Linked DNA regions of Homo sapiens. The protein of the gene in region 3 purifies or fractionates together with the protein of the main gene of each other region. This does not show direct contact. Each region holds a gene or a part of one and is shown on either strand. Other genes may lie near its edges. The genes, in order: POLR3E, SRP54, GIMAP8 and OAS2.

Region 1 (8,269 bases), on a different chromosome or scaffold from region 3:
TTGTCTGGTGTGGTCTTCTGTGGGCAGGCTTGTTGCTGGAGTCCTTGAGCAGGCTGACCTAGTACCTAGGTCAGCAGATGGATGAGCCTGGTGCTTGCATGCATAGGATTAATCCTGGAACGTAGGTCCAGTGGAGTGGGCCAGTTGATTGGGTCTGCAGGGGTACAACCAGAGCCTGAGTCCACAAGGGCAGGCCTGGAGCCTGCATCCAGGGAGCTGACCTGAAGCCTAAAAACCTGCAGGGGTGGGCCTAGGTTCTGGGTCCATAGGGACTGTTCTGGAGCCTCAGTCCGCCAGGGCATGCCTGGCATTGAGGCTTACTGAGGTATGTGCCTGGAACCTGGGTCCACTGGAGCCTGGTGCTGAGGCACACATGGACCTTGGGTCCAGGGGTATTGTACTGGAGCCTGGGATTGTGGGTGCTGGCATGGGGGCATATAGATCAGCCTGGAGCCAGGGGTATATAGATACTGGCCTGGAGATTAGTCTCTGAGGGCTCGCTTGGATCCTGGGGCCATGGGGGCTGGCCTAGAACCTGGGGCTGCAGGGGATATTGGAGCCTAGTCTGTGAGGGCCAGCCCAGTGCTGGGGTTTACTCAGATGGGGCTGGACCAGGGTGGGGAGGGGGTGCCTGCTAGAGTGTGAGCTCATGGGTGCAGGCCTGGCAGTGGGTATGCTTAGAGCCTGTGTTCCTGGCGCAGGCCTGGAGTCTGGGGCTGGCATGATTTTGGGGTCCAATGTTCTCCTTCCTCCAAGTAGAGGGTCTCTCTCTCTCTCTCTCTCTCTCTCTCTCCACCCTGTGCTGCCTGGGGCTGGGGAGGGGGTAAGCTAGGTAATGTAAAATTGTCCCTCCTATCCTCTTTAGTACATCTTATTTCTGTGGTACACCAAGGTGCTGTAATCTCTAGAGGTTCCTTAACTCTTGTGAAGGTATTTTTGTGTGTGGACAGTTGTTTAAATTCATGTTTCTGCAGGGGGATGAGTGCTGGAAAGTCCTATTCTGACATCCCAAGTTCCCTCAATTTTTTTTAAAACAATAGTTCCCTCCTATATTCCTTGTTTCTTTTTCTTGCTATTTGAGTTTGGTGTTTTAACCAGTTCTTTTTATCAATGTAAAGTATTTAAGGCTCTGACTTCTCCACTGAGCCAATTAAGTTCTGCAAGGTGATGGGACTAACATTCTGTGCCGTCCCACATGAGCATTTCCCCTTTCAAAGTGAGAAGGAAGTAGGATGGAAAAGCTGAGACATATTCCAAATCGCTTTTGGTAACTTTACTTTTCAGGTTCACATATGTTAACAGAATCAATACACGATCAACTTGTTAAGTGATGTTACCAAATACTTATTTGGCAAAGTACATCCTTGATCAATGCCTTAGTGATTCTATAGCTAAAATATTAGATGTTTTATTTTGGGGGGAGTGGGGAAATAGCATAGACCGTCATTTAAACCTTCAGACAATTAGTGACTGTGTTGTACAAAAAAGATGGCGAAAGCCTTATCTAGATACCAAAATTCACATGTCATCCAACCTAGCTTACTCTTATTTTTTCCATCAGTTTCTAGGGCTGTGCTATCCAATACTGTCGCAAATAGCCCCATGTGGCATCGGAGCACTTATGATGTGGCTAGTCCAAACTGAGTGTTGAGGAAAGTGTAAAATGCCAGATTTTGAAGACTTTTACCTTATGTTGATGTTTTAGATATTTTGAGCTAAATAATATGCTAACATGACCTTTTTAAACTAATGTGGTTGCTAGAAACTTTCAAAATTATGTACGTGACTCGCCTCTTTCTAGTGGACAGTGCTGCTCTGTCTTCCTCCATTAGCTCCGTTCCCTCTAGATACACGTAACGCTGAGCCCAACAAGATCGCCTTCCTGTAACCATTTGAAGATAGCACCATGATGCTAGTTTAGTGTTTGCATTTATTTTAAAAATACACAAAATAGAAATTTTTACATCAAAGTGTGATAACCTCACTTACACATTGTTCCATACTTACCTGGTTTTGTTTGCATCTTTCTGCAAACATTAAAAGGAGATGGATTTGATTCTGATTTTTTTGCTATGGTTCATGTAAACAGTTGAGACTGCTACATAAAGTAGGTTGTTGTCAAAGGTGAAGTGGCCACAGAATCCCAAGAATAGAATAATTCAATTTGGTTTAATGAAATTGGTGGAGGTCTTAGCAGATAGATAATCCAAGACTAAATATTGTCTTCTAGGCATTTTAAAAATTAAGAACTTTGAGGTTTTCTTCATGTTGTAAACATAACTTAGACCTTGTTGGCATTAAGTTTACAAAAGAAAATATTAAACCATGATTTTTATCATCCTGCCCATGTCAGTATACACTCTCTTTATTATGAGAATGAAACCAAATAATAAGCAAAATACATCAGGAATTTCAAATTGTACTGCAAAGAAGGTCCCAGCTGGTCTCTTCTGGGAGTGATCTAACTAACTTAAGCTGACCCTGCGACTGGCTGAGGATAATCCCTTCTGTCCACTGCACCGTGCAATGCCACAGGTCATGAGATGGTCAGTTCCTCTTGCTCTGTGTCGTCTGAAGCAAGTCGAGGCCCTACTTCTGGTTCCGCCCTTCTTCCTTGGGCTTAGATTTGCTGGGTTAGTAGTTTGCTACTATTGTCAAGACTGTACTGTCCCTTTAAGGTACCACATGCCACCATAGCTTACACAGCAGTCCTATGAGAGAGAAACAGGGTAAGCACAGATTTTTGCAGGAAAAGGAGCTAATTACATTCTGTCCACAATGTCAACACTCGATTTATGATTAGTGAATAGAATACAAATGGGAAATCAAAAACTGCCTAACCATACCACCATGGCTACTACCAGCCACCCTTTCCTCAGGGGTAGTGTTTTTTTTTTTTTTTGAAACAGAGTTTTGCTCTTGTTACCCAGGCTGGAGTGCAACGGCATGATCTTGGCTCACTGCAGCCTCTGCCTCCCAGGTTCAAGCGATTCTCCTGCCTCAGCCTCCCAAGTAGCTGGGATTACAGGCATGTACCACTACGCCTGGCTAATTTTGTATTTTTAGTAGAGATGGGGTTTCTCCATGTTGGTCAGGCTGGTCTCAAACTCCTGACCTCAAGTGACCCACCCACCTCAGCCTCCCAAAGCGCTGGGATTACAGGTGTGAGCCACCGCGCCTGGCCATTCCTCAGGGGCATTTTAAAAGTGAGGGTGGGCCAGGCATGGTGGCTCACACCTGTAATCCCAGCTACTTAGGAGGCTGAGGCAGGAGAATTGCTTGAAACTGGGAGGTAGAGGTTGCGGTGAGCCGAGATTGTGCTACTGCACTCTAGCCTGGGCAACAAGAGCAAAACTCCATCTCAAAAAAAAAAAAAAAAAAAAAAAAGGGGGTCTACGAAATACAGATACTGACATGCCCAGAACAAGGGTGCTTAAAAAACAGTATTACTTATATGGCTCTGGATGTTTAATCAAAACAAGACATTGTCATCAGTTTTCTGTCTCTCAGTGTTGCTGCAAATATGGTTGGTATTTGTACTACAGTCACTTCAGAAAAGCATTATAGGTTGTACATTAGGTGCTTTCATATAGTAAACAGATCATATTCCTTTTTAAACTAAATTTAAGAATGGATTCTACTGAAAGTCATGTGTGTGGCTATGGCAACAATCAGAAGATAGTTCAAAATTCAAGGGAGAGTAGAGTGAGGATTCTCAACTAGGCCCTATCATTTTAGAAGACGCCTACCCACTGCCAAGCTCATCCAACCTACCATATTTTTTTGTTGTTCTATTGTTTTAGGCTCTTAGCAGCCTGAAGCCATGGTTTTTAGTTTCTGTCTCTAGTGACAAGCAGAGAAGAGGGATGAAAGGGGCATTACTGGCCTGGCCCAACCAGAAAGAGAAACAAAGCATCCATGGCTGTATTCTTTCCCTTGGACACCACTGTGACTATATTGTTTGAAGGGGTCAGTCCTCTGGCACATACCCCCTTCCCCAACCAATGCCAATCAATCAATCATTAACAGTTGCTCAAGACAAGACTGACTGGGGAGTGGTCCCAAGGAAGCCTGATTTCATATACACAAAGACACTAGAGTCCCTTCTACACACTGTCAGCCCCTTCCAGAGCCTTTGATATTGTTTGTTATGCACAAAATGGATGTACCTTTAGTACTTTATCCACCTCCTGTTTACTGAGATCTTCTCCACACTCTTGAGTCAACCGAGACTGGATCATGTTTCGGCGTACCCGGTAATTTTTGGAAAAAATTTCAAGCAAAACCTGTCGATGCTTTAGTAGCAAAAACACGTTATGATGGGAAACAGTGATCTAAAAAGAGAAACATCCCCAAACAAGACACCCAAGCCATGCACCTGACTTTGTGTTGCAGTCTCTGATAAAAACCCTCACGCAGCACCTCTGGTTAAAGATGAGCCAAGTCATCTCTAGAGACCCAGCAAGACAGTGTACAGAAATAAAAACACAAAAGTAAAGGCATTAATGCTATGTCTGGAAACTTGAATATAAATAAAAACAAAGGTATATGCCAGCATAACAAAAGAACTGGTGAAGAGACATGAGAGGATGAGTGGCTTGAACATATTTCTGCATGGTAAAATGCAGGCGTGCATCGGACTTAGCAAGCAGGTGAAGCGACAATCTAAGCTGCACGGAGATGAGAAGAGGGTGTCAAAATTGGTGTGAAGTCTTAATGCACAAACATGCCACTGCATCCATGAAACAGGATGCCGTAAAATACGTTACACCCCAAAATAAAAATGGAAAAGATTGGATTCAGTATGTCTAATATCTGTCATAAGAATTCTGAAAAAAACAAAAAAAAGTAACAACTCACAGGATTTTATAAGAACTCAATTGTCTAGTACAATAATGACCCGCACCAGGGCACAGCTGAAATGGCACTGACTGATATACAGAATAATGAAAAATTCTGCAGTTTGGCATAAAGGAAAGAATACAGGCCAAATTTAAAAGACCAAGAAGGAGAATGTTATGGAATTTCAACAACTCTGAAAACTTAAACAATGGAAACTCTCTTAAAGATGCTTCATGCCGGGCGCAGAGGCTCACGCCTGCAATCCCAGCACTTGGGGAGACCGAGGCAGGCGGATTACCTGAGGTCAGGAGTTCGAGACCAGCCTGTCCAACGTGGTGAAACTCCGTCTCTACTAAAAATACAAAAATCAGCCACGCGTGGTGGCACACGCCTATAATCCCAGCTACTCAGGAGGCTGAGGCGGAGGTTGCAGTGAGCCGAGATCGTGCCATTGCACTCCAGCCTGGCTGACAGAGGGAGACTCTGTCTCAAAAAAAAAAAAAAAAAAAAAAAAAAAAAAAAAAGGATGCTTCATGTATCACTATTTGTCTAGGACTAGAATTTTGAGAGGCAAATCATTTGATCACGTAAAAATAGAAACTTTGATAACCTCACACATTGTTCCATACTTAGCTGGTTTTGTTTGCATCTTTCTGCAAACATTAAGAGGAGATGGATTTGATTCTCCTTTTTTTTTGCTATGGTTCATGTAAACAGCTGACTGCTACATGAAGTATCCTTTGCCTCTTAAAATTCTAGTCCCAGACAAACAGTAATACTGTATTGTAATCCATTTTAAGACATGAAAGAATGCAGACAACTCCTCTGTCTCTTCAGAAGCTAAAGCAAGGAAGAAGCAGAGATTCCAGAATTCAGCAACAGACATGGGGAAGAGCGAGTCTCACTGGAGAAGCAGAGGGAGAGGCTTCCCGGGAACCAGGCTTAATTAAGCAAAGTATCACCCTCGGTACACATGTGTTCAGAAAATTACACAAGTGAAAACAGGAAGCAGTGAACAAGGAAATGCAATCATAGTATATTACTGATGTTTGGCTCTACAATGGATAGATTTTCAGTTCATTCTGTGACAATGCTATAAACAATGATAGCCAATTAAAAAGAGGTAAAGGCCTGGTGTGGTGGCTCACGCTTGTAATCCCAGCACTTTGGAAGGCCAAGGCAGGCAGATCATTTGAGGCCAGGAGTTCGAGACCAGCCTGGCCAACATGGTGGGACCACCCCCCGACCCCTACCACCGCGATCTCTACTAAAAATACAAAAATTAGCTGGGTGAGGCAGCACAAGCCCGTAATCCCAGCTACCCGGGTGGCTGAGGCACAAGAATCGCTTGAACGCAAGAGGCGTGAGCTGAGATGGCACCACTGCACTCCAGGCCTAGATGACAGAGCAAGAGCAAGAGCAAGACGCTATCTATCTCAAAAAAAAAAAAAAAACTGGCGTAACATATCTATCTCTACAGTCTCCTAAAATAGTTGAGAGCTAAATCTCATCCACCACAATGGGAAGCCCATTGCTAATGACAGGCTGATTTTTTTTTTTAAATGGGGGCAGCTATTTTAGTGGTATCTTTTGGTGATGTAAATGCCTATGATCCTAGCACTTTGGGAGGCTGAGGCAGGAGAACTGCTTGAGGCCAGGAGTTCAAGACTAGCCTGGCCAACATAGTGAGACCCTGTTTCTATTAAAAAAGTAGTAATAAAAGTGGTCACCTCTGAGGGGTGGCAGTCAGGTCCAGCAGTGCAAGAGCTTTCCTATTAAAACTTCTAGTCTGATTTGATGTTTAAAAATCTGCATTTATGACTTTTGTTTTTTTGCCTTTTTGTTATCAAAGTATTTCAGATACCCTCTATTCTGGACAAAAGCACTCAAGCTTGCTCAGGAAAAGGCCCCAGCCCCTTAGATCCTCAGCCTGCCAGTTGGCTCCCCTAAGAGGCAGCTGGGGACAGAGAGCTCAGTGGGATTTCTGCTGACTCCCTTCTCCCCACACCTTAGGAGCAGGGCCTAGACACGGTCAGACCGACTGGCGTTTCGACCATCAAATTAGGTACGTTCACGGCCTAAGAAAAGCTGGGATGCAGGGTCCATGACTACACCACACACACGCAAGGCGCTGCTGCTTCCACTCACATTTCTGGGCACTGGACACCTGTGACCCTCCCCATCACAGTATGACTAGAGGCAAAATGACCAATTTCTTTAACCTAAAAGTCCAGGACCTGACATCTGACAAGGAATCCTTTTGATTCCTGCTGCCAGAGGCCGCCTGAGAAATGTGCTTCACCAGTGCTCTATAAGCCTGGCTGGATCAGAGTTGCTCAGGAAGCTTTACAGAAATTCAGATACCTAGGACAGTACCGCATACCTACTGAACAGAACTGAATCTATGTTTTTTTTTTTTTTCTTTCTGAGACACAGTCTTGCTCTGTCGCCCAGTCTGGAGTGCAGTGGTGCAATCTCGGTTCACTGCAACCTCTCTCTCCCAGGTTCAAGCAATTCTGTCTCAGCCTCCCACGACTATGGGCATTTTTAGTAGAGATGGGGTTTCACCATATTGGTCAGGCTGGTGTCAAACTCCCAACCTCAGGTGATCCACCCACCTTGGCCTCCCAAAGTGCTGGGATTACAGGCGTGAGCCACTACGCCCAGCCTGTATTTTTTAAAAGATGATTCTGATGGAGCTGGCTCACAGACTGGCATCTGGGAACCACTGGTTTAGGTTCAAACTATTGGCACATACAGCTTATTTTGTTAGCGTACAGAGTTGGAGCAGGATATTTAAAACCGAGTGTGCCAGAAAATCTGAAATGTGTGGCTGCACTTTGGGTGCACATGTCCCCCAAGGCCTCCAACGCTGCAGGAAACCCCCCTGGCTCTTCGGGAAGATGGCAGCAAAGTTCACCTCACCTGATCACTCATGTCTCCAGACTCCCAGAGGGCAAACACCTTCTGCTCATCCGGGGAAGCAGCAGTCTGGGGGGGAAACTGACCAAGGCCCAGGGGTGAGTTGCTTGTCCATCTCTACCCCATGGATCCATTTGCTTGCCTCATCCCTCCCTGTCTGCCCCAGCCCAGATGCAGGAACATGGGTTCCAATCCCAGCTTCTGCTACTCACCATCTCTGAGGGCCTTGGGCAGCCACAAACCTGTGCCTCTCACCTCACCATGGGGAGGAGGCCAGCACACCCCCCAGGGCCTGACAGGGCTTCAGCGAGAGGGGGAGTGTGATGGGCCCAGTGAAATGCCCGGCTTCGAGTCTGCAGATATCCTCCGTACAGTGGGGAAGCTGCGTCTGTTTCCCATCAGCCTGGCACCAACTCAACTGTGCTTTAACACCCAGAGTCCTCCCTCCTGAAGATGCCAACCCTGATGGAGGGGCGCCCCCTTCCCCATAACTCTTGGGGTACCC
Region 2 (8,269 bases), on a different chromosome or scaffold from region 3:
TAGTATTCGATGCTGTTCGATAGCATTTTACCCACAGTAGAACGTCTTCCAAAATTGGAGTCAGTTCTGTCAAACCCTGCTGCTGCTGCTTTATCAACTAAGTTTATGTAATATTCTAACAATTTGAACAATTTTTCATATCTGTGCTTTATCTACTATCTGATTTATTGTTATTTTTTTGTAGTCTCTTTTTCCTGAGCTCCAGGTTTTCATAGTAGCCCAAATAAGACTGTCTTTTTCTTTTAAGGTTGTTTTTTTTCCTCACTGTCTTTAACACTGCAAAAATGTTTGCATGTAGAATTCATAATTGCAGCATATCTAAAGTATCCATTCTGTGCCAGGCACTGTCCTGAGCACTTTAAATATATTAATTCATTTTATCATCATAACAACTCCTATGGCATATTCAGTTATTATCTGCCTTTTTCAAATTAGGAAACTGGGATACAGGGAAGTTGAGTAATTTGCCCAGTATAGAACCTTTCCTGACTTCCTTCCTTCTTTGAATTAACGCCCCTTCCTCTATTTGCTTAACTCTGTCGTATTACTTGCCACGATGTGCTGCTATTAGTTTATCTTCTTTCATTTGATTTGAGCTGTTGGAAGGAATATAATATATATGTTTCATAAATCTTTTATAAGGAAGATGTGGCTTAAAAGCTGCATTTATGAAATGGATTTGGAGGTTTTGATCGTGACTTTATTTTGAGATATTGTATCTTTGTTAGTATTGCATTGATAATTAGACTTCACCTGGATTTCAGTTCACTTCTGGACAATATACTTAGAGGGTATGTATAGACAAATTAAAAGATGTAGGAAATCAGGATGATAAATGGGGTTCTAAACCATGTTAGAAGAGTCAGAGGTGGATATTTGTCATCCAGCGAAAATTCACAGGAGACATGGTAGCTCTTATGCATTTGAAAGCTGGCCAGGTGCGGTGGCTCTCAACTGTAATCCCAGCATTTTGGGAGGCTGAGGTCGGTGGATCACTTGAGGTCAGGAGTTCGAGACCAGCCTGGGCAACATGGTGAAACCCTGTCTTTACTAAAAGTACAAAAAAAATTAGCTGGCTGTGGTGGCGTGTGCCTATAGTTCCAGCTACTCAGGAGCCTGAGGTGGGAGAATCGCTTGAACCCTGGAGGTGGTGGTTGCAGTGAGCGAAGCTTGCACCACTGCACTCCAGCCTGAGGGACAGAGCAACACTCTGTCTCAAAAAAAAAAAAGATTTTGAAAGCCTTATTTTTTATGCGTAGCAAGGAGACATATACATGAATAGGAATGGAAGTGCCACGTAAATGGATTTCAATTTAATATGTGTAAAGAAAAGATTTTTCCCTAAGTATAACAGAATGGCATAGACAGCCTTACATTAGATAGCAGGTCATCTCTCCTGGGGATATTAAGACCAAGGCTAGATAACCATTTATTTGGGGGATATTGCAGAGGGAATGCAGACATAATGGACATTTTGACTAAAGTCCATCCCATTCCTGAGATTGCATGCAACTGAAGCTAGAAGAAATGCACCTGATATTCTAAGAGTGATCAAACAACTGCGGGAATTAATTCACTATATGCTACTGAGAGAATTAAAATACTAGTAGTAGTAATTACTTGATTATAGGAAATAATTTTTCTGTTGATTATGGATAGAACGTACCTCTTTCTGCTTGCTTATATAGTCTACATTATGAATTTATGATTAATATTTAGGGTAGAGCTAAAGTGAGCATTTGTGTTCATTTTTTAAATATACCATATACCTCTGATGTTTGGAGGGCCTGGAGAGGGTAGACATATGAAGTATGGAAATGTTGGACATGGGGTCTCGAAACATTCTATTAATAGTTTACTTAAACTGTAGGGAAAGTACATGTTTGTTTCATTGTTTTTATAGCTTATGAATACTATAAATGTTCTTTTGAATATATTCCGTATTTTCTTTTTTTTTTTGAGATGGAGTCTCGCTCTGTCGCCCAGGCTGGAGTGCAATGGCGCAATCTTGGCTCACTGCAACCTCTGCCTCCCAGGTTCAAGCGATTCTTCTGCCTCAGCCTCCCGAGTAGCTGGGACTACAGGCACATGCCACCATGCCCAGCTAATTTTTGTATTATTAGTAAAGACAGGGTTTCACCATATTGGCCAGGCTGGTGTCGAACTCCTGACCTCATGAGCTGCCTGCCTCGGCCTCACAAAGTGTTGTGATTACAGGCATGAGCCACCACGCCTGGCCTCCATGTTTAATTTTTAAAACTCAAAAGCAAACATAGCGAATGTTAACATTTGTTAAATCTGGGTGGTAGTTTGACTATGTATTATGTCTGTTTTTCTGTATGTAAGATATTTTGTAATATAAAAAGAAAAATGAGATAGTTATCACTTTAAAAACATCTGCTAAGCTCTTTGAAGTTATATATTGCCCATTTGCACATAACTGCTTTGATGGTGAATGATAATTGTGTGTGAGAGTAACTGACCTTGTCTACAGAACTAGACAGTACGGATGGTGCCAAAGTTTTTAGTAAACAACCAGGAAGAATCCAAAGAGTAGCAAGAGGATCGGGTGTATCAACAAGAGATGTTCAAGAACTTTTGACACAATATACCAAGTTTGCACAGATGGTAAAAAAGATGGGAGGTATCAAAGGACTTTTCAAAGGTAAGAAAAATAAGCTTGTTATTAGTTAACAGACGGAAAAGAAAGGAAGTTGAGAAAAAAGAGTGCTGCCAGTATTGGAAAATTCACAGCTGAATTTCATGTTATTTTCAAGTACTTCCAGGATTTATGTGACCTGTGATTTATCTGTTTTCATATTCAAGGTAATATTAATATTTAAAAAAAAACTTTACATCTGTGTAGTGTGGGTAAATGAAAAAAAATTAATAAAGCAATGATTTTCTTTTTGTGAACACATTATATTAAATTTAGATAATATAAGGAAAAAAAAAACACATTACCTTTACTCCCCAGAGAATCCAGTGGATCCTACTGCAAATAACAGTTGCTATAACTAAGTTTTCTTCTGATATATCATAACTGTTTTTCCATGTTGTCAAATATTCTTCAAAACATAATTCTTGGCCAGGCACGATGGCTCATGCCTGTCATCCTAGCACTTTGGGAGGCTGAGGCGGGCGGATCACTTGAGGTCAGGAGTTCAAGACCAGCCTGGCCAGCATGGTGAAACCCTGCCTCTACTTAAAATACAAAAAATATCCGGGTGTCGTGGGGTGTACCTGTTATCCCAGCTACTCGGGAGGCTGAGGCAGGAGAATCACTTGAACCCAGGAGGCGGAGCTTGCAGTGAGCCGAGATTGTACCACTGTACTCCAGCCTGGGCAGCAGAGTGAGACTCCGGTCCCCAAACACACACACACACACACACACACACACACACACACTTCTTCTGAGTAATACTGTTTAAGTTATGCATGTATCTTTGTCTAATGTAGTGCCACTTTTTTGGACAGTAAGGCTGATTCATTCACTTCTATATCAGATCAGTTTTTGTGCAGTTCCATGAGACCAGGGATTTTTGCCTGTTTTGATCAGAAACATAGTAGAAGCTAAAAAAATTTTGTAGTAATATAATTTCCATTATATTTCTTTATTTATATTATTTTGAGACAGAGTCTCTCTCTGTCACCCAGACTGGAGTGCAGTGGCACAATCTCGGCTCACTGCAGCCTCTGCTTCCCAGGCTCAAACAATTCTCCTGCCTCAGCCTCCCGAGTAACTGGGATTAAAGGCATGCACCACTACCGCCTGGCTAATTTTTGTATTTTTAGTAGAGACGGGGTTTCACTATGTTGGCCAGGCTGGTCTTGAACTCCTGACCTCAAATGATGTGCCCGCCTCGGACTCCCAAAGTGCTGGGATTACAGGCTTGAGCCACCACGTCCGGCCTCACTTCCATTTTAATGGTTGAATATTTTCTCAATATGTGTTTTTACATTATTAAGTTTAACATTTCTTTGTACATTTACTGGTTTGAATTTACTTTGTGAATCACCTCTTCATGTTCCCTGTCCAGTTCTTCCATTTTTCCCCCTTATATCTTTGTAATAGCTCCTTAAAATCTTTGGTTTATGTCTTCAAATATTTTCCCCCAGTTTTTCATTTACCTTTTATTTTTATTTATATTTTATAATGAACAGTAGTTGCCCTTTTTAATGTAGCCAGCCTATCTTTTTTTATTTCTTTTATGCTCATAAACAGCTTCCCCTTGTTTATTTTTTCCTTTTTTTTTTTTCTTTACAGAGGTAATCAAGTTAACCTTCTCCATGTTGATACCACAGTTGTCACCATTTTCTTCTTTTTTTGAGACAGAGTCTTGCTCTGTCGCCCAGGCTGGAGTGCACTGGCATGATCTCAGCTCACTGCAACCTCCGCCTCCTGGGTTCAAGCTATTCTCCTGCCTCAGTCTCCCGAGTAGCTGGGATTTCAAGCACGTGCCACCATGCCCAACTAATTTTTGTATTTTTAGTAGAGACTGGGTTTCACCATCTTTACTGGCCAGGCTGGTCTCAAACTCCCAACCTCAAGTGATTCGCCCGCCTTAGCTTCCTAAAATGCTCTGGGATTACAGGCATGAGCCACAACACCTGGCTTCTACTTGTTTTTGTTTTTATTTTGTGTTTGACTTTTTAATCTCAATTGAATTTATTTTGCTGTGTATTATGTATCGTAAAAAGATAAGGTTTTCCAAAGACTTCCAACTGTTCCAGTCCTCTTTTTGATTTTTTTCTATAATGTAAACAACTAATTCAGAGTCTGTGAAAATTTGCCTTGAAACCCATTAAAATGAATTTATTGTTTCCAAAAATATTAATTAGACAAGCTCTGAATATGAACAATACCATTGAATAGCTTCTAAAAGAATGAGTATTTCCAGATGTTTTAAATTACCTTTTGTCTTTGAAGCTTTCCTTATTTTCCTTGCGATATCCTATTTTCTCTTTTGTGACAAAAAAATTAGACAAACATGTTGAAAATTGGTTATAATTCCTACCATCACATGCTATTTCAGATAGTGACTAATAAACACATTACATCACTGTAATGTCTTTCCCATGTAGTCCTGACTGTTCTTGATAGAACAGATTCACCATCCAGATCTTATCTATGCATTGATCCCTCAATAAAGGAATAACCCAAGATGAAGTTGGCAGTGGGTATACACACAGCTATGTCACACCAAACTTGAAATACTTTTTAGAAGTTTTAAATGCTGATAAACAAACTCTTAGGACAAATCACTAATGAGCATGGAATTCCCATCTTCTTCAGATTTATTCATCATAAATGGTTTTCACAGATTTTATCATAAAAACATAATCTTCTCTTTCATTCATAGTTTATAATTCACATGATTTATTCACATTAACCAGCTGTGATTGGAGAATCAGGAGGAGCTTTGAGTCCCATATTTTATAAATGCTTCTGAGAAGTACCATAGTTAATGCCCCTTTCAAATAAATAATTTTGGATGGTTGTGGTGGCTCATACTTGTAATCCCAGCACTTTGAGAGGCCAAGGCAGGAGGATCCCATGAGCCCAGGAGGGCAAGGCTGCAGTGAGCCATGATCAGAGCACTGCATTCCAGCCTGGGCGACAGAGCAAGAGCCTGTCTCAAAAAAAAAAAAAAAAAAATTGTTGAAGCAGTTCTATTCATTGTTGTAGTGATGATCTCTTGCTTTCTTTTATGAGTACAGCTGTTGTCTAAAGGGTGTTTTTATCTATTCTGTTGTTGTTTTTTTATTTATTGTTGTTGTTTATTTTTTGTTGTTTTTTGTTTGTTTGTTTTGTTTTGTTTTGAGACAGGGTCTCGCTGTGTCACCCAGGCTGGGGGCTGAAGTGCAATGGCATGATCATGGCTCACTGCAGCCTTGACCTCCCAAGCTCAAGCGATCCTCCAATCTGAGGCCCCCAAGTAGCTGAGACTACAGACGCATGCTATCACACTGAGCTAATGCTTTTTTTTGTTTTTTTTGTAGAGACAGGGTTTCCCCATGTTGCCCAGGCTGATCTTGAACTCCTGGGCTCAAGTAATCAGCCTACCTTCGCCACCTGAAGTGCTGGGATTACAAATGTGACCCACCTCACCCAGGCTGCATCTCTTTCATTGACTGCCCTTTTTACTATGGTGTTTTGACATAGTGTAGAAATTCCTTGACAAGTGAAGTTGCATTATTTGTCTTTGTATTCTCTGAAGGTTTTCATTACTTAAAGAAAACTTCTGGCCAGGCGCTGTGGCCTACGCCTGTAATCCCAGCACTTTGGGAGGCCAAGGCGGGCAGATCATGAGGTCAAGAGATCGAAACCATCCTGGCCAAAATGGTGAAACCCTGTCTCTACTAAAAATACAAAAATTAGCTGGGTGTGGTGGCTCATGCCTGTAATCCCAGCTACTCGGGAGGCTGAGACAGGAGAATGGTGTGAACCCGGGAGGCGGGGGTTGCAGTGGGCTGAGTTCGTGCCATTGCACTCCAGCCTGGGTGACAGAGCTAGACTCCATCTCAAAAACAAAACAAAACAAAAAAAACTTCTTAGATACATACACATCTTCACGTTCTCTCAGACTCATACTTTACTTTCTACTTTCTTTTTTTTTTTTTTTTCTTCTGAGACAGAGTCTTGCTCTGTCGCCCAGGCTGGAGTACAGTGGTGCGATCTTGATTCACTGCAACCTCCGCCTCCCGGATTCAAGCAATTCTGCCTCAGTCTCCTGAGTAGCTGGGACTACAGGCGTGTGCCACCATGTCTGACTAATTTATTTTGTATTGTTAGTGGAGACGGGGTTTCACCACGTTGGCTAGGCTGGTCTCGAACTCCTGACCTCAAGTGATCTGCCAGCCTCGGCCTCCCAGAGTGCTAGGATTATAGTTGTGAGCCACCACAGCCAGCCCAACAGACTCATACTTTCATATTCATCTACCAGCCATCCAGTCTCTTTGCTAATTAACCCATGTCTATAAACTCAGCTTTTTGTCCAGCATTCCCCTGTATCACTATTAAGCCGTTGTTATAGCTTACTATTAAAAACTGCTGGCTGACCAGGTACGGTGTCTCACACCTGTAATCCCAGCACTCTGGGAGGCTGAGGTGAGTGGGTCACGAGGTCAGGTGTTTGAGACCAGCCTGGCCAAGATGGTGAAACCCTGTCTCTACTAAAAATACAAAAATTAGCTGGGTGTGGTGGCGGGCACCTGTAATCCCAGCTACTTGGGAGGCTGAGGCAGGAGAATTACTTGAACCTGGGAGGTGGAGGTTGCAGTGAGCCGAGATCACGCCACTGCACTCTAGCCTGGGTGACAGAGCAAGACTCCATCTCAAAATAAATAAAAAATAAAACACTGGGTACAATTTTGCTAATAGTGGCTTATTCACAGATATAAATAAAGTATTAGCATAAATCGTAGCCTTAAAAAAGCCTTTTATATGTCCTTTTATATAGAATTTTACATGGTCTTCAAAAAATAGTATGTAATTGAGAAAAAGATTAGAAGGGAATATGTAGAAATAGAAAGAATTATGTTAGAGTGATAGGATTATGTAATTTTTTCTTAGTATTTTCTCAGTTCATCAAACTTTCTATTATACCCTGATTATACTGATTATATTACCTCCTACGCTGACTCAAAATCTTTTTTTTTTTCCCCTCAGGTGGCGACATGTCTAAGAATGTGAGCCAGTCACAGATGGCAAAATTGAACCAACAAATGGCCAAAATGATGGATCCTAGGGTTCTTCATCACATGGGTAAATACCAAGTTGTTGGCAGTTGCTAATGCAGTTTAATTTATAAGGGTTGAGTTTTAATGATAAGCCTTTTATTGTAATATTATGAAAATATGTTCAAAAGGTGTGTGATTTCAGGGAAATGGTCATCTGAATCCTAAGTTGAATTCAATTGTAATAGGGCTTATTAGCTGAGGTCTTATTCACTCCTCTGCTGCCATCTGTGTGATGTTTGAGCAAGCTATTTAATCATCTTTTGTTTGTTCTGGTGACTTTTTCCCTTATTTTAGAACCTGGATATTTTTACTTATATGACTGAGGATTTTTAACCTGAGTTCTACTTTGACTATATAACCTTTACAAAGTTCCTTAAACTTTCTGAACCTCACTTTCCCCTTCGGTAAAATCACAGATCATATCTCATCAAGAAATTGTGACAATTAAATGAGATAATATATATGAAGACATTCAGTACAATTCTGGGCATATAGTAGATGTTCAATAAATGAATTATTTTCTTTT
Region 3 (6,533 bases):
AAACTTGCCATTCAGCTCCAGCTGCAACACTGTCAGGTCCCATCTGAGCTTCTGAGCTGAAGCCATGCTTTCTCCAGCCAGTCCCCAGCCTAAAGCGGAGCACAGCAGAGCTCCTAGTGTCTGTCCAATGCAGGACTTGGCTATTAATCTGTCTTTGCCCCAGAATTCCCTATTGAGTTGGCCTGGGCTTTGCCAGGCTCTTCCTGCCCAACTCAGCTCCTCCCCACTTTTCTCTTGCAAGTGTCCAGTCTAAATGACAGTCTGAAGGCTTTCCCTGCCCAATTTGGCTTCTTCCCTCTTTTGTCTTTCATGAGCTTTCCCCATAAACCTCTTGTGCTCCTAACTCTTTCTCGGCATGTATTTCTCAGAGAAACTGACACAGCAGTATTGTTGCCCCGTTCAGACTTGGACCTGAAGGAAAACAGCAAGGTATGTTAGAGCCAACCTGTGAGAGGATGCCACATTGCTTAGCCCACACATCACCCACCTTGTGCAGCTCCCAGTGTCACCTGCTCAGCCATAGGTAGCACACTGGGATTTGTTTCTGCCTTCAGGCAGAAGGGAAGCTCAGGGAAGAAGCACAAAATGCCTTTCAGACCTTATTCCTCCCATGTTTCTGGTTCTAATACTGGTTACATTTATTTGTCCTTGCTATACTTAGATGTCCAGAGTGAAAGATAACTGAGCTGTCAGGGACCTGCCACACAAATGGCTGTCACCCAGTCTAAATGAAGGTCCTCAGGCACCAAAGATACAAAAACCTCGCCTGAGTCAAGGTATCTAAACATCTCAATTGTCTCTTCATGAAGGTATGCTGCTTCCCTAAATCACAAAAATAGAAATCAGAAAGAGAATGTGAATTCATAATGATTCATCTTTATTATTTGATTCAACTAAATATATTTACACACTTTTTTTTACTTTCCAATTTTTATTTCAGGTTCAAGGGGTACATGCACAGGTTTGTTACATGAGTAAGTTGTGTGTCACAGGGGTGTGGTGTACAGGTAATTTTGTCACCCAGGAAACCAGCATAACACGCAATAGGCAGCTTTTCAATCTTCACCCTCCTGCCACCCTCCACCCTCAAGTATACCCTGGTGTCTATTGTTCCCTTCTTTGTGTCTACGGCACACACATTTTCTAGAAGTTATTGTGTTAAGGGTTATATGGAATCCAAAAGTATTAATGGCAACAGTCCATGTCCTTTTAAATGGATTAATGTTGACGGTAACCTGATATTGTCTAGGGGAAAAAAACAGATGACAAAGATTATGCTCTCAAAGCATGTACAAAGTGCTCAACATTTTACCCTGTATCTATCTTATCCTGTATCTACCCAGAAGAAGGTTCCAGATTTCTCTCTCACATATCACCCACCTCTCAAAATAATCTGCTCAGCTATGGAAAGAACACCACTGTCTTGAAACCAAGAAGCAAATTCGAGTGTAGAAGCCACATCCCAGTGCAGGTGGGACAGAAAGATAGAACAAAACTGGGATGTTGACGCCCACCAGCCCCAGCCTGCTTATTCCTCGGCTTCCTGACAGGAGATACAGGAAGCCCCTGATGTTTTTAAACCATTATTATTGGAGTTCTCTGAGTTTTAACCTGTTTCCTAACCTCAAGGGAAAGAGAAGGAGAAAGAGAAACGCAATGGAGATTCTAATAACCTTCTCTAGAGGAAATCTAGAACAACACTTAGAATTACAGAACTTTGCAAGATTCTCTGATTTTGGCAATCTTACTATGCTTCTAATTTCTGTTCTAGTCTATGTCACTGTGATAATTAGCAATAAAATCATTCAGAACCTCCAAGACTCATGTCTGTTTCCTCAGGGACAGCCAGCAATGGAAGACTATGTCCCACTTCACATCTAGGCGTGGAACGTGAAGAGCCGTAAGGAATGGCTAACGTGTGAAGAAAAGAACACTCTAGCCCTAAGTCGCATCCCAAAGGAGACAGGAGAGCTCAGGGAGCCAACGGCCCTGGACAACAGGGAGGCCCTCTGGAGTCTGCTTCCTGCTTCCGCCATGCCCAGGAGTGTGCTGAACGCTGCCCTGGTCTCATGTATCTGGATCCCCTGGGTTGTTGTACGACTATCTATATTCTCATCCCAGGTGGCCTCAGCCTTGATCACAGTGTCTATCCTGATTCCAACCTACCTACACAAGTGAGGTGATTCTTGTGACTTGATTCTACCACTTATTATCAGCCTAATGTCTGAAATCTTTTTCCAGATTTCCCCACCTTGTATCTTCTTTCTCCTTTATAATACCCTACTATTCGCCCCCACCTGCAATTTATTTATCTACAAATAGCTGATACATCACAAGGCGGGATGCATTTGCCTCTCAGGCCCTCAAAGCCATGAACCCGCTTCCCTTCCCACAGGTTGTACCATGCCCCGCCCCTCCCCCCAACCTGAGGGTGTCTCTAATTGAAGAGACCCCAGGCACTTCGGCTACCTATTGTAAAATACCTATTAAATTTTTAAGGAGTTTTTCGGCTTGGGACATTTCCTGGACATTTTTAATTAGTTTGCTGACGTTCTCCTGTGTATGGGGATACCCGGACCACCCACTTTCTTTTCTCAGATCATTGACCTTTGTTAAAAGAGCTTTCACCTGGGTTTCCTGGGCCTGGCCTGTTTCTTTGTTGTTAAAAGCACAAACTCGCCGCCCACACTTTTTAAAAATGCGCCGAAGGGCTTTGTTATCTGAGTTCTTCATGAAGTCTTCCAAATTCCCCGCCCCTAGGTCTTCCTTCCGGGTGAACAGCATAATCGCGTATTTCGTAAAGTCTGCTCCAAAGATGGCCTCCAGTTTCGCCACAGCTGTTTTGTCCTCTTCAGTGAATCGTCCCAGCTGGAACACCAGGACAAAAAATGTGTCCCCTTTTTCACAGCAGGACAAACAGCGCTTGACCTCCTCTTCTAACCGGGATGGGTCCTTTTCGACATCCAGCATCTGGTTGAAGGAAGGAGTGTCCACAACCACCACCTCCTGTCCGTCCCATGTCCTCCTGCCACTCTGGCTGGTCTTGGTGACTGGCTGGGCCCGGAGCCGAGAGGTGAAGACGAGGCTCCCCAGGATAGAGTTCCCGGTCGCACTCTTCCCAGTCCCGCTTCTCCCCACAAGGACAATGTTCAGGGTTTCTGTCAAAGGAAAGTGGGAAAGATTCGTGACCATGGGCTGATCTGAAATTGGATTTTAAAGTTATCCCATGAAGCAAGATTACATCACTAAAGTAAACAGCATGTTCAAACAGCATCAAGACCTCCTTCTCACCCAAGCAGGGGGATCTCCAAACACGGGAATGACTTGGCCCAGTTCACTCAGTCTGTGGACTCATGGCAGGACTTGGACTACATACAGTCTCCGTCCAGGGTTCATCCACCAATGTGGCACTGTTCCTATCACTGAATCGGCTCTGCTCCCTTTTTGCAGCACCTTCCAGACAGACTCCCTGGCACCTGTGAGTGTCCCCTGGCCTTCTTACTCTCTGCTCCCCTCAGCTGGGTTCCGTCTACACATCTCATCCCTTTGTCTTCTGTTCCTGTTACAACTACATCTTCTCACTCCCAACTACTGCTAACTATAGCAACATCTCCTTACAGTATTTAAAGAATTATTCTGTAAAATTGACTTTCATGAAAAAGAAACTCTACATATCACTGATAGATTACCAGTTTCCTTAGTTAGGACATGTAAAAATTCATTTCTCATTAAAACCACATTGAACTTAATTGCCTTTCACTGATGAGTCAGAAGAAACCGCATGGTTATAATAATGAATATCCACTAACACTGTTGGGTGTGTGGTGTCCATGATGGAGAAAGAGAATGAATTTCCCTATAAATGGAATTTACAGACACATAGAGACCTTACAATATGCGTTCTTTGGAGATCGTTCTTATGCTTTTGCACTTGCACTGTGACAGTCCAGTGCTCATTCAAGTCTCTTCGTAGTTCTCTTCCATTATGAATTTCATATCAAATAGCTAATATCTACTTCAATGCAAAGGAGGAAGAAAGCACATCCCATGCTCTTCCTTCAAGGGGAAATTATTAACCTGTTTATGCTGAAACTTCAACTTCATAGTTATGCCCAGCAGATGAACAATAGCTTAATCTTCCAACACTCCCATATTTGTCATATATTTCAGTCCCTACTTCTGTACCTACAGAGGGTGTGTTTCTCATGTACCTCTGAAATCCGGCCCCACTCCCCATCCCATATTCTCTAATTCAGTGTTCTTAATGTTCAACGCCTTAATCTTCAATGTTCTTGGAAGATGTCCTTTAGAGCTGTGAACCCCCATCTCCACCAAGATTATTCTTTTTTGTCCCCTAACAAGTGACATGCTTAGTCCTACCTCTTTGCTTCAAATTGCTGGTGTACTCTCTGGAATATCTTCCAGCTTTCTGCTCAGCCATTTAATCCCTACCCATTCTCTAAAACCTGTTTCAAATTGGGCTTTCTACACAAAGCCTCTCCTGACTTTCCCATGTATCTATACTTCTAAAGGAGGGTTCAATAAGAAAATATGCTCCTTTGGGTTTTATCTTCTTCCTGGGTGAGGATGTTTGAAGCAGAAAAAAAAACGGGATGAGTAAGAATGGGAAGGACCTCAGCATAGGTCAACTGAACGTGTAGCACTAAGTGGATGAGGAGCCCTTCTTAAGTAGTAAAGAGAGCAGTGTGCCAAGCTCTGGGCAACAGTACACTGTGGGGAAACAAAGGGTTGGAAAGCATCAGCTCCTTTCTTCAAGACACTCACACTATCCAGTTGAAGAGATAGTAAAGATCATGAAAAAATTAAAGACCGGTTCAAGAGAATGTGCATGGAAAAGCTATAACTTCAGTACAATTTGAGAAGCAAAGAAAGAGAAAAGAGTTAGTCCATAGAACAGACCTATCCTTCCTTTATTTTTCTTCCAGTTTCAACTTCTTTTTTGTTTCATTTCAACTTTTATTTTAGGTACAGGTACATATACACCATAGAATAATAGGCAGCCATAAAAAAGAATGAAATCCTGTCTTTTGCAGTAACATAGATAGAGCTGGAGGCTGCCATCCTAAGCAGACTAACACAGGAACAGGAGACCTGTCCTTTTTATCTTCTCTATGCCTTTTAGAAAATGTGGCACATATACACCATGGAATACTATGCAGCCATAAAAAATGATGAGTTCATGTCCTTTGAAGGGACATGGATGAAATTGGAAATCATCATTCTCAGTAAACTATCGCAAGAACAAAAAACCAAACACCGCATATTCTCACTCATAGGTGGGAATTGAACAATAAGATCACATGGACACAGGAAGGGGAATATCACACTCTGGGGACTGTTGTGGGGTGGGGGGAGTGGGGAGGGATAGCATTGGGAGATATACCTAATGCTAGATGACGAGTTAGTGGGTGCAGCGCACCAGCATGGCACATGTATACATATGTAACTAACCTGCACAATGTGCACATGTACCCTAAAACTTAAAGTATAATAAAAAAAAAGAAAAAAAAGAAAATAAAAAGTTCTTATATATTTTATACCTATTTTTAAATGATATATGTAAAAATATATATCCTATTCACAGTTTTACCTTTTTCTCTGAAAACACAATGCTTGTTCCCATTCTGATGCACCATGCTCTCAATTTTTTCCAGGAGCTCGTCCGCCTGCCTTTGCTCTTCTTCTCCTGTTGCCCGGTAGTTGAAGGCACTATATCTGTTTTTACACTTCTGGATGAGACCATAGAGAGCTTTATTGCTGTTTCTTAAGAACGTATCTAGATCCTGATCCCCTAAATCTTCTTTCCTGGTAAGAAGTATGATCATGTACTCAAAGAATTTTTCTCCAAAATTGTTTTGGATGGTGCTCAGCACTGCCTCATCATTCTTAGTGTAAAAGCCCAGTGGTGTCACCAGCAGGAAGGCATGGGGGCCTGTACAGATGTGTTTTCTAACTTCTGAGTCAATGTTCTTTAAAGATGAGATGTCCGGAGCATCAATGATCGAAACTTTCTTTTTTCTCCAGCTTCTGCTCTCAGACAAGAAGCTCTGGGTTACTGACTGCTCACTAAATCCGGTCTGAAAGGCCTGCCTCCCCAGAATGCTGTTTCCTGCTGCACTTTTTCCAGCACCGCGTTTCCCCACAAGGAGGACTGTCAGTTCTGATGTCCCCGGATTCTGCTCGGGTCCTGTGGACTGCAGCTGCCTTTCCCTTGGGCCTGTGGGACAAATGGACAGGTTCAGAGTCTCTTCCTGCAGTTGAATATGGATGTGGGCAGGTTTTATGATTTCTCATCCCTGCAAACTTGTATAGAGAATGGCAACAACACGGTAAACCAGTAGAACTCTACTCTCAGCCAGAAGCTCTCCATCAAGGTGAAAGCCACAAACAGGGGCAGGAGTGAACTAAGAGATATTCATGGAGCTTATGATTCCCCAGGAACACGAACATGCCAACTTTGGCCTTCGTTGGTCTAGGTCCTCAGGGTTCCCCTCATTTTGTTATCAAAGGTA
Region 4 (8,269 bases), on a different chromosome or scaffold from region 3:
GTGGCAGACATCCTTGGGTGGCCAGTGCAACCCACGTCCACAGTCATCTTTGTAGCCACCTTCAAGTTACAGGTAGCCACATGACATTTCTGAGCAATGAAATGGAAGAAAATTTGCGGATGAAACTTCTAATAAAATCACTGTGTTCTTGACCTTTGGGTATCTTTTCCTTCTTCCTGCTTGGATTGCAAACCTGCCATCTGGAGGCACCGTGGCCGCTTTCAGGGCCATAAGTACTCAAATTAACAGCTAAAGAGGGTGGAGCCAAAAGCCAAAGGCAGAAAGATCTGTGAACCCAGGGGAACGTTTGACAATGTCTGAAGACTTTTGGTTGTCACTGGGAGAGGAGGGCTAGTGGCATCTACTGGGTAGAGACTAGGGATGCTGCGCAGCACCCTACAGTGCATGAATCTGGGGTTACCTGCCTGAGGATCACTTGTAGTGGGGGCTTAGGGGGCTGACCAGCTGTTTAAGCTCCTGTGAGCTGGGTTTCCTTTATTTGTGTCTGAGTTAATTTCAGGTTGCTACAGTAGGAGAAGTTCTTTGATTCAAGCCTGTTACAGGGCTATTTCCAGACAACGCCTCCTTTAGATGACTTTTACCGGCACTTTCCAAGGTGGTATTGGGTTTCCAGTCCCATCCTTGAAGCAGGGAGAGGATAACCATTCCTTTGCTTCTTTTGCCAGAAGATGCCAACACCAACGGTCCCCTCCACCCACGTCACCTGTGGGTTCGGCTGGGTCCAAGATCACAGGCCTGAATGAGAGGTTAGAAGGCATTAGGAGATTCCAAATCCCAGTGACTTCAGAATTTGGGGTCCATCCTATAATACTTTCAGCAATAAGACAATGTGTTCTTACAGCTTAGATGTCAGCAACTCAAATTTACTAGTAGGGTTCAAAGTAACTTTCTAGAGGCCGCGTGCAGTGGCTCATGCCTGTAATCCCAGCACTTTGGGAGGCTGAAGTGGGAGGATCACTTGAGGGCCAGGAGTTCGAGAACATCCTGGCCAACATGCAGAAACCCCATCTCTACTAAAAATACAAAAATTAGCTGGGCGTGGTGGTGCGCACCTGTAGTCCCAGCTACTTCGGAGGCTGAGGCAGGAGAACCAGCTTGAACCCGGGAGGCAGAGGTTGCAGTGAGCTGAGATTGTGCCACTGCACTCCAGCCTGGGTGACAGAGTGAGGCTCTGTCTCAAAAACAAAAACAAAAGCCAAAACCAAAGCAACTTCCTAGAATTAAATTGTATTTGCCAAAAGCGTTTTGAAAGCTGTTAATTGCTATACTCATGAAGGCATAATGAAGGCATAGTCTAAATATCTCCTCCTTGCTATGTCAGCTAAAATATGATACATAATTTAATCAAATACAATGTTGCCAAGAACCCAGGGTAGGCAACCCACCGGGGGTCTCCTTCTCTCTTACTTCTCCTCTATTCTTTTTCAACGCTCCTTTATTTTCTCTCTTTCCTTTCCTCTGGTTTCCATTGTTTTTGTCCCTTGCTGGTGGCCCTAAGCAGATGGATATGATTTCTTACTATTCTTGAAGGTCTGAAAGAGTAGATAAACCCTAACCCAATAAAAACCCTGCAGGATAAATCGGCCCGTGAATGATAGCGTTAATTCTTAGGGACACACTTCCAACTCTAACACCTCTTAGATGAAAGCAGCTCAGGGACGTGGTATCTTGAACCTTCCTTCTCTATTTTTTCTGAACAGCATTTTCTCCTGCCCCTGCTAGGTTTTATCCCTGGAGACTGTGACAGGTTCTGTTGGCTAGCACTTTCCCCCGTCATGCAAGGAATGAATCGTGACCCCAGCAGAGGAAAATCCAGGTTGCTGAGACAGTGTTCAAGGGAATCAGGTTAAGAAAAGTACGGGGCTAGGGTGAAGGCACCTGGTTTTCTGCAACTGGCTCAGTAGAAACTTCCTCACGGTCTCATCTTCAAAGTTGTAATTGACCTTCCAGAAGATGCAGAGCTGCTGATATTGTGTGACCAGCTCCAGGACTGTCCGGAAACCTTCTGCAGTGTCAAAATCCGGCACTCCACTCCCCTGCTCCCAGGCATAGATGGTGAGCAGCTCCAAGGCATACTTTGGGGGCAAAGACCCCTTTGGCTTCAGTTTCCTTTCACACTAGGTAAGAGTGGGAACATCAGACGAACTGGTTAGCCTAGGAGCTCAGTGAGAGCCGCACAGGGACCACAGCAAGGCAACTGAGTCACAGTGTCGTGCTGGTGTGCTCACACTCTGCAGCTTGGATGTCTAAATTGTACAGCCTACAGGAGTCCACCTGGCAGCAGCACATTTGAGTTTCTTTGTTGTGCTTTTGACCATATATGCCTTCCTAGGACAATAACATAGCTACAGTTTACTAGAAACCCACTGCATGCCAGCTATGGGCCCAGGCATTTACCCACATCATTCCTAATCTTCCCCACAATGCAGGCAGCATGACCTGCATTTTAGATGAAGACTTTGAAGCTGCGGGAAGTGGAGTGACTCACTCAAGGTCACGCCACAGCCCCAAGTCTTCTGACACGCCATGCCAGCTCTCTGATTTTCTGGGATGAAAACTACAGAGTTTGGTCTTGGTTTCACATTTCAGGGAGCTGGACACAGAAAGGAGGCATCTCAGGAAGAGCTGATATCGTGCTTGATGTTTACTGTCATGAGGATGTTCAGAAGCTACTTTGTGTGCAAGTGAGGGGAAACTGGGTAGAGACTAGGGATGCTGCTCAGCACCCTACAGTGCATGAATCTGGGGTTACCTGCCTGAGGATCACTTGTAGTAGGGGCTCAGGGGCTGACCAGTTGTTCAAGCTCCTGTGAGCTGGGTGTATAGAAAATGCAGCCCCGGTTCCACCTACAGCTTCAACCTGCCTTCTGAGAGAGAGCATGTGCGCCGGGAAGCAGAAAAGTCCTATTGGCAATGTGTGGGCATGTGAATCCCAGCTTCCACCCACCCTCTGTAGGCAAGGTCACTTGGATTCCTGCAGAATTCTTTGGCCAGTGTGAGGGCAAAGTAAACCACATGTAGCAGCTTTGATGGGCAGAAGCCATCAACGCCTGACCCAAATGAATAGGGTTAGTGATGGGAACGTCGTAAAGATATCCAGTGGGCAGATTCTCCAAAGTGGCTCAGCCCTCAGCATGGGAGATTGTGGGCAACAGGGCTTAATGTTCATGGCTTACTGGTAAAAATAATAACCCCATGGTCAGAACAAAGACTGTCCTTACCTCTTTGTACCAGTGCTTCACCAGGCGAATTAAATCCTTTAGTTTGGTGGGCCGGGAGCGAATGAAGTTTCGCTGCAGGACTGTGAAACAGGTAGAAAACTCTCCTCCCGGGAGGTCCGAGGATTTATACAGATCAATGAGCCCTGCATAAACCTCGGGGCTGGGTGTGGAGCCAGAACTCAGCTGACCTGGCATGAGGGAGAGATTGACATCCTGCTTTAATACACATAGTAAGTAACAGATTCCAAAACATTTTTGACAAATATGATTTAATTCTTGGAAATTACTGTGAATAGTATTAGCATATTTAAAAGACTGATGTCTAAGACACAGGGAGCATCTCCAGAATAATGAGATATGTAAAAATTATGTGGTCTACACAGGTGCAGCTGGTATTATTAAAGTATTATCTAGACTTAAACTAACAGAGCAGCCACCAGCAATGTGGCCATTTGCACTCACATTCATTAAAGGGAATGAAAATTAAAAATTTAGTTCCTCAGTTGCTGTAGCCACATGTCAAGCTCTCAGTAGTTGTAGAACCCAGACATAGAACATTTTCATGATCACAGAAAGATCTCTGGGACGACACTGATCTGGACTTTGTGAACTACCGCCCCCTGGGCTAAATCTGGTGCGCTGCTTCTTGTTTTTTTTTTTTTTTTTTTTTTTTTTTTTTTTTGTTGTTGTTGTTGTTTTTTGCTTTTTTGAGACAGAGTTTTGCTCTGTTGCCCCAGACTGGAGTGCAGTGGCATGATCACAGCTCACTGCAGCCTCCATCTCCTGGGCTCAAGCAATCCTCCCACCTCAGCCTCCTGGGTATCTGGGACTACAGGCGTGTGCCACCATGCCTGGCTAACTTTGTTTATTATTTATTTATTTATTTATTTATTTATTTTTGGGATGAAGTCTCACTATGTTGCCCAGGCTGGTCTCGAACTCCTGGATCAAGCAATCTTCCCGCCTCGGCCTCCCAAGATACTGGGATTACAGGTGTGAGCCTCTATGCCCAGCCCAACTGCTTGTTTTGTTTGTGTGTTTGTTTGTTTGTTTTCAGACGGAGTCTCACTCTGTTACCCAGGCTGGAGTGCAGTGGCACGATCTCGCACTGCAACCTCCACCTCCCGGGTTCAAGCAATTCTCCTGCCTCAGTCTCCCTGATTACTGGGATTATAGGCACACAGCCCCATGCTTGGAAAAGAGAAATGGGACCAAAATTGTCTACAAGTGTGAAGTATTACTGCCATGACTAATGCCACTTGCTGGGGCCAGGGACCCATGAGTGGCACATGTTTTCAGAGCCCGTAATCAAGTCACGTGGCTCTCCCTCCACCTTCTGTCCACCATCACTTCCAAGCTAAGGTCTGGGGAGCCTTACCCAGTGCATTAAAGGCAGGAAGCACATCAAAGCTGACACTTTCGTTGAGGACTTTGGATTTCAGAGAGAAGCTCAGCACCCTGGGAGCCTTCCACTTGGGAGGCTCAAAGCTGACTTCAAGCTCCTCCTCCTTCTCCCTCCAAAAGGCTTTCAGCTGTTCATGGATTTCCTTGACGATTTTGTGCCGCTCGTTTTTTTGGGAGGTGTAGCTTTTAAGTGAGTTATGGAACACGACGAGATCGGCATCAGAGCCAGTCTTCAGAGCTGTGCCTTTGGCGGTTGATCCTCCCTAAGGAAGAAAGGAAGGTTGAGATCCAGAATTTCCTTAACCGAGGAGTCCCGTGCCCCCGTGGGCTGGCACCAGTTGGGCTAACTGACACTGTTTCCAAGGCCAAGTTCTGCGTTAGGGTTCAGTGAGGGCTGAGTCCAAAGCAAAGGGTTTTCTTTTACAAACTAATAGATAATGCAGTTATTAAACAATACAGTTCCCAAGGCAATTATTCTCCTGCCTTTTATACATGAACAACTGATGGGCTAGTTACAAGTTACCTGCTTCTCAGGTCAATTTCCTAAAGATTTTCCTAAAGACATATTTAGCTTTATTTGGATTCCTGTAACCAAATAAATCGAGCGGAATGCAATAATTATGGTGAAGGTGCTCATCTGTTCTTTGATGTGTGTTTTCTCCTGCAGGTCTGGCGATCATTGGGTGAATATCCATAATTGAGGTACAGGGTTGGTAAACTTTCTGCAAAAGGGCCAGATAGTAGGTATTTTAGGCTTTGTGGGCTATTTATGTCTCTGCCATTAAGGCTTCTCCCTTCCCTCCCTCCTCCTCTTCCTCCTCTTTCTCCTCCATTTAGTTTCTGTAGAGAAAAATGTTTTATTTTATCCATGGGTATTAAATGCCTGATTACATGGGTTAAGGAGGTGAGGAAAGGGTATGTTCTATTTCCTGTATGCAGATCCTCAATTCATCCCTGTTCCAGCCCCCTTCATTCATGCAGGCCACCTTTGTCTTTAAGAGGTGGGCTTCGGCGGCTCCTCTCAGACTGTAGCCCCTTCCTTACAATCTCTAGGTGTCACCTTCCTCTGGCCTAAGCAGAGAAACCTTCAACCAACTTCAGGAAGATGGAAAGCAATGTCTTATCTGCCGATGGCTCTCTTTTCTTCTTTGATGTGTCATATACCTTTTATTTTTCACTGACTATCATGTGAATGGGGTTTCAGGAAGGAGAGGAGAAAGCACATGCTTTGACAATTCTAACACTGATCAGAAACTCAGTCCTGTTTTCACTCCAGTGACCTTCAATGAGACAGTTCACTCATTGCCCTGGGGCTATTGGTGCCATTTCCCAGGCCCCTCTTCTCTAGTTGCACAGATTTGTTCTGGCATCAACGCAGAAATTTACGCGTACATAATAACATTTTCCTCCTTCCCTTCTTGTGACCACGGGGACACGTTTATCTGGTCGTGTGACCAGTAAACAGAGAGAAACATGTCAGCCCCGTGGCCTTTGAGCCACGGACAAGAATGACAAAAGCCTCTAAATCTCTAGCTCAGCTGATGGGGCAAGCCGGGCTCCAGTCACTCAAAGGAGAAGGAGATTCTAAGCTCCTTAGAATCTGCAGTGGGTTCAATGGTGGACCCCTAAAAATACATGCTCTGGGGGCCTGTGGATGTGCCCTTATTTGGAAAAAGGGTCTTCGCAGATGTAACTGAGTTAAGGACCTGGAGATGAGATCATTCTGGATCAGGCTGGGCCCTAAATCCTATGACAAGTGTTCTTAGAAAAGAAGAGAAGGGGGAGGACACAGAAGAAAAGGTGATGACAGAGGCAGAGACGGGAGTGATGTGTCTCCAGGCCCAAGAGCCCCAAGGACGGCCAACAGCTCCAAGAAAAACAATACAGAATCAAAGTTGTGTTGTTAATGACCTAGGCAGTCTATCCACAACCCCCCTGAAAACTAGTGTCCTAGTTCCCTTAACTCCTGGCTTCCCTTCCTCAAGTTTCTGAAGGTAGATGGATCCTGGAGAGCTACAATGCCCACTTACCTCCCTTCCAGGAATGCCCAATATTACATCATTCCAACAAGACATGAGAAAGGCCAGTGCTCACCCGGACAATCTGGATCTTGGCTGTTGATTGTCGGAAGCAGTTTTCTTTAAGGAATGTACGGATGATGTTAACAGCACTGTCAATCTGCTCTAGGAAGCATTTGTTGGGCTGGAGAAACTCCTTGATGAACTTATCCAGAAGGTGGCCTGGGGTCGTGAAGAGTGGTGCAGGCTGGGGAAGGAAGGAAGACCCCAAGTGTGAGTGGCACCTGTAAGCCCACCCAAGGCTTCTTTTCCTGCCTGTACTGGGCCCCCTACCCTGCCTCTCCCAACTGCCCTCCTGCTCGTGGGCTGGCATCTTTTCCGTCTTTTGTCATTGCACAAATACATCCCAAGAACACACCTGAGAGTTTGGAGTGGCACACAAGACCCCCCACAGACACAAAAACTGTCCTAGTTGCCCCTCCTTCCCCCTAGGAGAGATCTGGATCCTTGTCCAGACAGATCTGTCGTGTTCCTAACTCCAAACTCCTTTTCCATGCCCAGTTGGAGCATCACTTCCTAATGACCTGTGGCTTTTTGCTTTACCTACACCTCTGGTCCTTCCCTGTCTTCCCATTTGCTGTAGGTATTGGAGATTGCTGATGACCACATCCATTCCTTTCTTAAGGTTGTATCAGCCTGCGTTAAACACGCCATGTGCGGGTGTGTTGGTTTCCAAAGGCTGCCATAACAAGTGACCACAACTAGGTGGCTTAAAACAACAGAAGTTTATTCTCTCCCAGTTCTGGAGGCCAACAGTTCAAAGTCCAGGTTTTGGCACAGCTGTGCTCCCTCTGAAGCACACGTGGTTAAGTCTCTAGAGATGGGAGGATTATTCTGCATTACCTGGTTTGGCCTGATGTTATCACAGGGGTCTTTTTCCTCTTAATTTTAATTTTTAATTGAATTAATTAATACATTTTTCTCCACTTTTACTTTAGGTTCAAGGAGGTACATGTGTGGGGTTTTACATGGGTAAATTGCATGTCGCTGAGGCTTGGTGTATGAATGATCCCATCACCTAGGTAGTGAGCATAGAACCCAACAGGTAGCCTTCCAACCCATGATTCTAACCCATGTTTTTTCAGAAATAGTGTCTCGCTCTGTCACCCAAGCTGGGGGGCAGTGGTGCCATTATAGCTCACTGCAGTCTCCAATTCCTGGGCTCAAGGGATCCTCCAGCCTCAGTCTCCTGAGTAGCTGGGACTACAGGTTTGTGCCACCACGCCTAGCTTTTTTTTTTTTTTTTTTTTTTTTTGTAGAGATGGGAGTCTCACTAGGTTCCCCAGGCTGGTCTCAAACTCTTGGTCTTAAGCAATCCTCCCACCTCAGCCTCTCAAAGTGCTGTAATTACAGGCGTGAGCCACTGTGCTTATAAGGACAAGGGTACTTATAAGATGGAGGCAGGAGGGTTAGAGTTGGAGTGTGGTGGTGTTGGAGTTAGAGTTAGGTGGTGTGATGTTGGAAGTAGAGAGAGAGGCTGGAAGATGCTATGCTATTGGCTTTGAAGATGGAGGAAGGGGCCATGAGCCAAGAAATTTGGACAAC

The links.
Region 1: the proteins of GIMAP8 (region 3) and POLR3E purify together in Homo sapiens (affinity purification with mass spectrometry; 2 studies listed by BioGRID and IntAct, with this or other methods). This does not show direct contact.
Region 2: the proteins of GIMAP8 (region 3) and SRP54 purify together in Homo sapiens (affinity purification with mass spectrometry; 2 studies listed by BioGRID and IntAct, with this or other methods). This does not show direct contact.
Region 4: the proteins of GIMAP8 (region 3) and OAS2 purify together in Homo sapiens (affinity purification with mass spectrometry; 2 studies listed by BioGRID and IntAct, with this or other methods). This does not show direct contact.

The regions. Positions count from the first base shown.
Region 1 is NC_000016.10:22,328,086-22,336,354, reverse strand, and holds the end of POLR3E (DNA-directed RNA polymerase III subunit RPC5), read right to left. Parts: exon of another isoform or gene 7,846-8,269; coding exon 7,768-7,845; intron 4,296-7,767; coding exon 4,170-4,295; intron 2,712-4,169; coding exon 2,655-2,711; 3' UTR 1,259-2,654; downstream 1-1,258. UniProt on the Homo sapiens protein: DNA-dependent RNA polymerase catalyzes the transcription of DNA into RNA using the four ribonucleoside triphosphates as substrates.
Region 2 is NC_000014.9:35,020,416-35,028,684, forward strand, and holds part of SRP54 (signal recognition particle subunit SRP54), read left to right. Parts: intron 1-2,494; coding exon 2,495-2,665; intron 2,666-7,672; coding exon 7,673-7,768; intron 7,769-8,269. UniProt on the Homo sapiens protein: Component of the signal recognition particle (SRP) complex, a ribonucleoprotein complex that mediates the cotranslational targeting of secretory and membrane proteins to the endoplasmic reticulum (ER).
Region 3 is NC_000007.14:150,473,717-150,480,249, reverse strand, and holds the end of GIMAP8 (GTPase IMAP family member 8), read right to left. Parts: intron 6,239-6,533; coding exon 5,612-6,238; intron 3,159-5,611; coding exon 2,470-3,158; 3' UTR 857-2,469; downstream 1-856.
Region 4 is NC_000012.12:113,001,574-113,009,842, reverse strand, and holds part of OAS2 (2'-5'-oligoadenylate synthase 2), read right to left. Parts: intron 6,912-8,269; coding exon 6,741-6,911; intron 4,910-6,740; coding exon 4,621-4,909; intron 3,431-4,620; coding exon 3,243-3,430; intron 2,139-3,242; coding exon 1,900-2,138; intron 757-1,899; coding exon 588-756; 3' UTR 1-587.